Linked DNA regions of Homo sapiens: region 2 is reported to be linked to region 1. The links are microRNA targets in miRTarBase. Many come from high-throughput screens and were not tested one by one. Region 1 holds a microRNA gene; the other region holds the end of a gene's coding sequence.

Evidence for each region. The annotated mature microRNA hsa-miR-4472 reads GGUGGGGGGUGUUGUUUU and lies in region 1 at 1,563-1,580, shown strand. An mRNA with a match to its seed (bases 2 to 7 or 8) in the 3' UTR can be bound and repressed. Matches are read on the target gene's strand: a 7mer-m8 pairs with bases 2 to 8, a 7mer-A1 pairs with bases 2 to 7 and ends in A, and an 8mer does both.
Region 2: miRTarBase lists UBL5 as a target of hsa-miR-4472. Seed matches in the 3' UTR shown: 8mer at 3,853-3,860.

What each region holds. Positions count from the first base shown.
Region 1 is chr8:142,174,834-142,179,047 of GRCh38, forward strand. It overlaps MIR4472-1 (microRNA 4472-1), which reads left to right and starts at 1,506; the gene lies at 1,506-1,585. RefSeq lists an enhancer at 1-174.
Region 2 is chr19:9,829,809-9,833,914 of GRCh38, reverse strand. It overlaps UBL5 (ubiquitin like 5), which reads right to left. Exons shown (of 5, transcript NM_001048241.3): 5 at 3,800-3,950. The coding sequence ends at 3,907. Among named protein-coding and RNA genes, the nearest start is that of PIN1-DT, 3.2 kb to the left of the region's middle.

The DNA.
Region 1 (4,214 bases):
CTTGCAGGCCATCTTTGTCACTCGGTAGCTCGTGGAAGCCTCACCCCTACCTCTGCCTCCATCTTCCCATGGCATCTCTCTACATACATGCCTGTCCCCAAATTGCCCTTTTTTATAAGAACACAGTCACACTAGGTTAGAGCCCACCCTAGTGACCTCATCCGAACTCATTACATCTGTAATGACCCTATTTCCAAATAACATCCCATTCTGAGTTAGGGGGAGCTATGACTTCAACATGTGAACTTGGGGAACACAATTCAGTCCATGACATCCCCCATGGCCATCGTCCCCTGAACTCACAGGCCCAGCTACCCGACCACTGGAAAAGAACAGAAACAGCCCCAGCCTGGTGCTGGGGCCCTGTGGTATCAGACAGACCACCTGGCTAGGGGGAGCTGGGGTGGCTACGGGTGGAGAAACCATCCGCAGGGGTCAGGGTGGAGGGTGCATCTTATTTGTTTGTCCTTTTGCATCATGCCTGGAGAAGCTGAGTCTCAGGACAGAGAGGGATTCTTGACATGACCTGGCCCAGAGTGCCACCTGGGCAGTGCTTCTGTCCCCTCCAACAGCAGAGTGCCACCCAAGCAGTGCTTCTGTCCTCTCGGGCAGCAGAGTGCCACCCAGCACCTGCAGGGATGCCTGGACACAGGGAGCTCGCTCTGCAGGGCGAGGCTATGGGTGATCCCTGCACCTGCTCTGGCTCTGGTGCTTCCAGGGGCCCCTAGCTACTCCCATGTTACAGGCCCAGGCCCAGAGAGGCCAGGGGAGGTCCCCAGGATCTCACAGCCAGCTGGATAGAGTGGAACGTGTGTGGCCCCCGATTCCCGGCAGGCACTTGTCCTCCAGCCAGACCCACTGCCTGGCACTCACCGGATGCTCTTTCTCACCGAGGATCAACTCTCCCTCCCTGAAGGGCGCCGGACCCTGAGCCTGCCATCTGTGAAATGGGATAGCAGTGCCTGCGTCTCTGGTACTCACGGGACCCTCCATCCTTGGAGATTTAAGAGATGTGGTCAATATCACCCCACACAGTTCCTGGCACGTGGTTGACAGCCAGGGACCACCAGCTCCCGCACCCTCAGAACAGCCTTTCCGAAATCCCAAACCTTCCCTGAGAGCCGCCAAGAATACCCTACCCATCTCCCTGTGGGGAGCATTCAGCACTCCAGGAGCGTTTATGGAGCACCGACTGAATCCCAGAGTCTTCCCAGGCTGCAGGCCCAGCCCTTCCTGCACTGCGGCTCAGGAATTTGCAGAGTGTCAGGCGAGACGCCCCCGTTCCCAATCACTTCTCTCATTGTGGGGCTTCATTTCTGTTCCCTTTGGTTGGGGCTGCCTGCTCAGCTCCCAGCGTTCTATTTCGGCTCACAACATTTATAAAAATGCATCCGAAAACCCTGGCGCTGCAATCTGGAACTAACCTGCTTCAAGTCCTCAGACAAAAGCTCCTGAATACTAATTGAAAAGTGATTAATTACATTCACGGAGCCCCATCTCCTCACTGGCAGACCCTTGCTCTCTCACTCTCCCTAATGGGGCTGAAGACAGCTCAGGGGCAGGGTGGGGGGTGTTGTTTTTGTTTTTTTAAGGCTGAGTTGGTTTAAATCTCATTTAATTTTCACAAGGGAGAGCCTTGAGCCTCAACTCAGATCTTAACTCGGGTCAGATCTGTCCCTGATCTGGACAAATCCCGGCCCTTCTCGGATTCTCATTTCCTTCTTTGGAAGGTGGGGCTGCGGCACCTGGGGGATTTTGGAAGGCGACCGTCCAGAATTCCAATCCCGGCTGCTCATAATTGCTGCGGTGGAGCCCTGGTCAGGCCCCAACACGGGCTCCCTGCCCCCGTCCTTTTCCCCACTCCCTGCACACCCATAAACATTCTACCCACAGTCCCTGTGGTCTTCCAGGACTCTGCTCAGAGCTCACCTCCTCCAGGCAGCCTGCCGGGCCCTCTTCTCTGCTCCACGAACACCCTAGAACCCTGGGCTCCTCCCTGACTTCTATCCCCACAGGGTGTTATGGCAGCCGGTCATCCACTCTAGACCATGAGCCCCTCGAGATTGAGGCTAGCATCCAGCCACCCCCAAACCACAAAACTCACCACAGCCCCTGAACGAGCTGGAGGAAGACCGCAAGCTCCACACCTGAGCCCCGGGACAGAGCCAGACTCCAACGATGAACCAGAGCAGAAGAACCTTGCACACAGTAGGCATTCAGTCAGTGACCTTCCACCCTGCCCAGCCTCTGAGTGTCCTTGGACCAGTACCTGAAGCCCCTCTGGGCCTCCATTTTCTCCCCTGTAAGATGGGTTGACTAGGAGCCACGCCCAAGACTGAGGGATTAATGAGACGATGCGTGCCAAACACAGGGCAGCATGCAGTAAGCGCTAAATAGATGTCCACATCCCTTTCCCGGCCTGCCCCTTCCCATTCCCGGCCCCCAGGGTTTCCGGAGCTGGGTCTCCATGCCCCTCCAAGGCTGCCCCTGGGCCTGGGGAGAACAGGCTGCTGCAGGTAGGGGGCCCGACCCTCTGACCCTGAAGAGACAGCCGCTGTCACTGGAGGGACAGGGGCCCGGGGCGCTGGCGACCGCTCCGGAGCAGGGTGGGAGGGGCTCCAGAATTCAGGTCCGCCAAGCAGAGGCCATGGCCAAAGGCTGCGCACAGGTGGGCCCCTCTAGCAGGGCTGCCTAGAGAGACCCCAAGGGGGGTCTGGAGGGGTCAGGGAGGGGCAAGTGATGGGCAGGGTCTGAGGGGACTGCGTGGCCAGCCCCCTCCATCAGACCCCCACTTCCGCTCCAGAGCTCAGAGGGGCAGCTCAGCCGCAGACCGGAGGCTGGGGTCACGGTGGCACCGAGAGGAAGCAGAGGCAGCTGAGGGCCCCGCCTGCCGGCGCCAGCCCTCCCTTCGCTGTGGGGTCGGTCCCTCCTCGCTGCACCCTTAATTACAAGTGTCCTGAAATCCTGCCAGAACACACTCTCTGAGACGGTTTCCCTCATTTAAATTCTTCCCTGACATTTGTACCACAGTGAACAAGAACGAAACTCCTGGGAGGAGGCACGGCCTGGCGCTGCGGAGTCTCCCTGTTGGAGGAGGAAGGAGGAGGAGGAAGGCAGGACCCTGGGCCTGGCCTCCAGAGAGGAGGTGCACGCAGAGAAGACAGCGTGGGCAGCCACCACGACCACCGCTCCGGGCCCAGGTCTCCCTCGTCCTTCCAACAGCCCCGTTTTACAGGGAGGGAAACTGAGGCTGAAATGGGAGAAGTGACTGGAAAGGCACGTGGTGGGGAGCCTCTCAATTTGTTCTGGATAAAAACATTCTCTCACAGGGTCCGCAATTCTACAGGAGCACTCACGGCTGATTCAATAGGAGAATTCCCCTTGGCCAAGGAACAGCCACTCCCAAAGTGTGAAGGCCTGGGCGGCCGCTCACCTGAGGGCCCTGAGCTGGCCGGGCCAGTGCATCCCTTCATCTGAGTACCCCCCAGCACCAGCCAGTTCATCCCCTCACCTGAGTCCCACTGTGGCCAGTGCATCTCCTCACCTGGGCACCCCACCACCAGCCAGTGCATCCCCTCACCTGGGCACCCCCCCACCAGCCAGTGTATCCCCTCACCTGAGTCCCCCCCAGCCCCGCGGCCATTGCATCCAGACTCTACTTCCATGCAGACAGCAGTTGACACTGCACCCCTTTACAGAGGAAAGAACCAGACTTCATGTCCAAGGGTGGGATGATCCCACCCCAGCTCTGCCACTTGCCAGCCGTGAGGCCTTGGGGCAATTCTCACTCCCAAGCCTCAGTTTCCCCACTTGTTAAAGCAGGATGAGCAGCTCTGAGGTGCTGAGTTGCTCTGGAAGCAACTCCACTGGGCCAGGTAGAGAAAACCCTGCACAGGCCTCCTGCAGACGGGCGGCCACCTGTTCTATGTGGGACCCGCATGCCATGGGGGCCTTCAGGAGCTGTCCTCACCAAGAGGTGTGTCTGAGGGTGAAGCTTCGGGTACTGAAGCAGATCCCGGTGAGGCCTCAGCCAGCAGCACACAGCTGGTGCCAGCGACGCCTCCTGCCTCAACCCACCACAACCCACCATGGCAATGAGCTTGTGTCTCTCATGGGCGTCTTTGGGTTTGGGGTTCTGTGTAAGACAAGGCAACAAGTGTCGCCAGAAGCAGGAGCATTCCCCGGGATCAGCAACCCGGGGAAGGTACGAGACC
Region 2 (4,106 bases), not on the chromosome of region 1:
CCAGCTACTCGGGTGGTTGAGACAGGAGAATTACTTGAACCTGGAAGGCGGAGGTTGCAGTGAGCCGAGATCGCACCACTGCACTCCAGCGTAGGTGACAGAGCGAGACTCCATCTCAAAAAACAAAAAAAGTTTAAGTTTTAATAGAACATTTTTTACAAGTATTAGCATAATATTAAAAAGATACTTTTTATAAAGATAATTTTAGACATGGGCAGTTACAAAAACAGTAGGGTTTTCATGTACCCTTCACCCAAACTTCCCTAATATTAGCGTCTTAAATAAACAATAGAACAGAATTCTCAACCAGTAGCGATTTTGTTTCCCAAGGGACATTTGGCAACATCTTGATACATTTTTGGTTGTTACAACACCTTCAGACATTTTGGAACAGGAGATACTACTGGCTACTGGCATTTAGTATTAGATGCCAAGGATGCTGCTAACATCCTTCAAGGCACAGCCCCCACCAAAAGAATTATCCAATCCAAGGGCTGAGTGTGGTGGCTCACACCTGTAATCCAGGGCTTTGGGAGCCCAAGGCAGGAGGATCGCTTGAGCCCAGAGTTGGGGACCAGCCTGGGCAACATGGCAAGACCCTATCTCTACAAAAATAATTCACTGGGTGTGGTGGCACGTGCCTGTAATCCCAGCTACTTGGGAGGCTGAGGTGGGAGGATCTCTTGAGTCTAGGAGTTAAGAGGCTGCAATTAGCCATAATCTTGCCACAGCACTCTAGCCTGGGTGACAGAGGGAGACTCTGTCTCAAAAAATAAATAAATAAATAAAAATAAAAGGCTGGGTGCGGTGGCTCACGCCTGTAATCCCACCACTTTGGGAGGCCAAGGTGGGTGGATCAAGAGGTCAGGAGTTCAAGACCAGCCTGGCCAAGATGGTGAAAACCCATCTCTACTAAAAATACGAAAATTAGGTGTGGTGGCGGGCGCATGTAATCCCAGCTACTCGGGAGGCTGAGGCGGAGAATTGCTTGAACCCCTGGAGTGGAGCTTTCAGTGAGCCAAGATCGTGCCACTGCACTCCAGCCTGTCTCAAAAAAAAAAAAAAAAAAAAAAAATCCAACCCAAAAAAGTCAACAATGCCAAAGCTTAGAAACCCTGCTATAATATAATTATCAACACTAAGAAACCAATATCAATATAATACTATTAACTAAACCACAAATTCCCCCCAATCCTGTTTTCCCACTAGTGTTTTTATGTTCCAGGATGGGTGCTCACTGTTCCTGGAGTGTCACTGTTTCTGGTCCCTCTAAGTGGATAGAGCAAGGAAATATACATATGTATACACACATCTATATGTATCAATATATCTGTTAAACGAAAACCATGAATTCAGACTGATGCCTCCAAATCCAGTCCTACAAGGTTCATTTTAAGCATTCCCATCTCCTGTTTTATTTGTAACTTCCTTCTCCACAGTGAGACACCCAGCTCTCATTATCTACAAGTTTACTTATTTGTTCAACCCTGTTTGTGTGTATTACATGGGCCCATGTGCCCACACCCACACACACAAAAGTAGTTTCAAAATTGCTAAATCATGGCTGGCCCAACGGCTCACACCTATAATCCCAGCACCTTGGGAGGCTGAGGCGGGCGGATCACTTGAGCTCAGGTGTTTGAGACCAGCCTGGCCAACATGGTGAAACCTTGTCTCTGCTGGAAATACAAAAAATTAGCCAGGTGTGGTGGCTCGTGCCTGTAGTCCCAGCTACTTGGGAGGCTGAGGCAGGAGAATCGCTTGAACCCGGGAGGCAGAGGTTGCAGTGAGCCGAGATTGCACCATTGCACTCTAGCCTGGGCAAAAAGAGCAAAACTCCATCTCAAAAAATAATAATAAAAAATAATAATTAAAAAAAAGCACAGAAAAGCAAACTATGGAATGTCATATAAATATTACGGGACATATAATTATCCCCGTATGATAAAAACTCTAGGTTATTCCAGAAAGTTTCTAGAGTCACTCAAATGTATTAATGCCCACCACTGGTGGGAGGAGTGGTATAAGAAATAAGAAATTCAGGGCCGGGCGCAGTGGCTGACACCTGTAATCCCAGCAATTTGGGAAGCTGAGGTGAACGGATCATGAAGTCAGGAAATCAAGACCATCATGGGTAACATGGTGAAACCCTGTCTCTACTAAAAAAAATTAGCTGGGTGTGGTGGCATGCACCTGTAATTCCAGCTACTCAGGAGGCTGAGGCAAAAAAATCACATGAACCCAGGAGGCGGGGTTTACAGTGAGCTGAGATCATGCCATTGCACTCCAGCCTGGGCAACAAGTGTGAAACTCCATCTCAAAAAAAAAATTTTTTTAATTTAAAAAATAAAACAGGACAGGAGCAAGGTTGACACAAAGAACTGTGGCCAGGGGAACAGAGGGACAGTTGGTCTCCTGTCTACTCACACCTAGAGGAAGAATACAGCAAATAACATTATGTGCCAGGCATCCTGCTATTCTAATTGCGTGGTCTCATTGAGATGTGGGTGCCACTGTAGTGCTCATTTTTAGAGGATGAAACTGAGGGTCGCAGAGGCTGAAATCCCACTGCTAAGGATCAATCAAAATTCAAATCTAGTCGGTCTGACTCTTGAGGCTGGGATCATGTAGCCACACTTATAGTGCCACACTGCCTCACTGTCTACTATCACGTTTTGTCTTGAAAAGAAGTGCTAGGGCCAGGCATGATGGCTTGTGCCTATAATCTCAGTACTTTGGGAGGCCAAGGCTGGAGGATCACCTGAGGTCAGGAGTTCAAGACTATTTTGGGCAACATAGGGGAGACCCTGTCTGTACAAAAAATTTCAAAATGCCAGACGCGGTGGCTCACGCCTGTAATCCCAGCACTTTGGGAGGCCGAGGAGGGTGGACCACTTGAGGTCAGCAGTTTGAGACCAGCCTGGCCAACATGGTGAAACCCCATCTCTACTAAAAATACAAAAATTAACTGGTGTCATGGGGCACGCCTGTAGTCCCAGTCTCCTGCCTCAGGTGAGGCAGGAGAATTGCTTGAACCCAGGAGGCAGAGGTTGCAGTGAGCTGAGATCGTGCCACTGCACTCCAGCCTGGGTGACAGAGCGAGACTCTGTCTCAAATAAAATAAATAATAATAATAATTTTAAAATTAGCTGGCGTGGTGGTACACACTGCCCAGCTACTTGGGAGGCTGATGCAGGAGGACTGTGTTGAGTCCAGTTCAGGGCTGCAGTGGGCTATGAACATACCACTGCATTCCAGCCTGGGTGACAGAGCAAGATCCTGTCTCAAAAAAAGAAAAAAAAAAAATGCCAGGAACTGTGGATGTTTAAACATGCTTTAAACTCATTTATACCTCCTCACAATATGCCGATTGAAAGCAGACATGAAGTAAACGCAATTATTTCCAGTGGATAAGGAAGTAAAGGCTTACAGAGGTTAAAAAATTTTGCCTAGTGTCACTCAGCTGCTTGGTGGCAGAGCTGACATTCCACACATGGTCTGTGTGATTTCAGAATCTGAATTCCTAACAATTACATCTACTGTCATTAGCCGGAGGTTCTTTGGTTTATTAGGGTGACAATAATCCCAGAGTCTCTTGACCTTCAGACACCCACAGCAAACCCCAGAGCTCTCTCTGGGCTCCCACACAGACTCCCAGCCTGCTGGTCTACTCTGCCCTCATGGATCCAGTTGATCAGAGCTCTTATTTTAGCAGCTGCATGCTGATGGTGCAGTGATGACCAAACAGCGACTGATCCACCCATCACTAGACAGCTGTCATACAGAGACAACAACAAAGCAACATCTAAGTCTTTATTAAGGTGAGTTTTTACAAACAAGCATCTATCCCAGTGTGGGGGATGAGGATGGGAGAGGAAAGCGGGGCAGGAAGATGAGGATTCTCATCTATTGATAATAAAGCTCCAGGTTCATCCCATCGTGGATTTCATCTGAAGGAAAGGTGTTAAGGAATCCTGACTCTGACTTCCGTCCCCACCCCTCTCATCCATTCACAGCCGGGTCAGGTGGCCTGAGGTCTCAGCCCAGGGCTAAGGAAGCCCATTTTGGACCAGGCCATTTTTATTTGGAGAGAACCAAAACTTTAC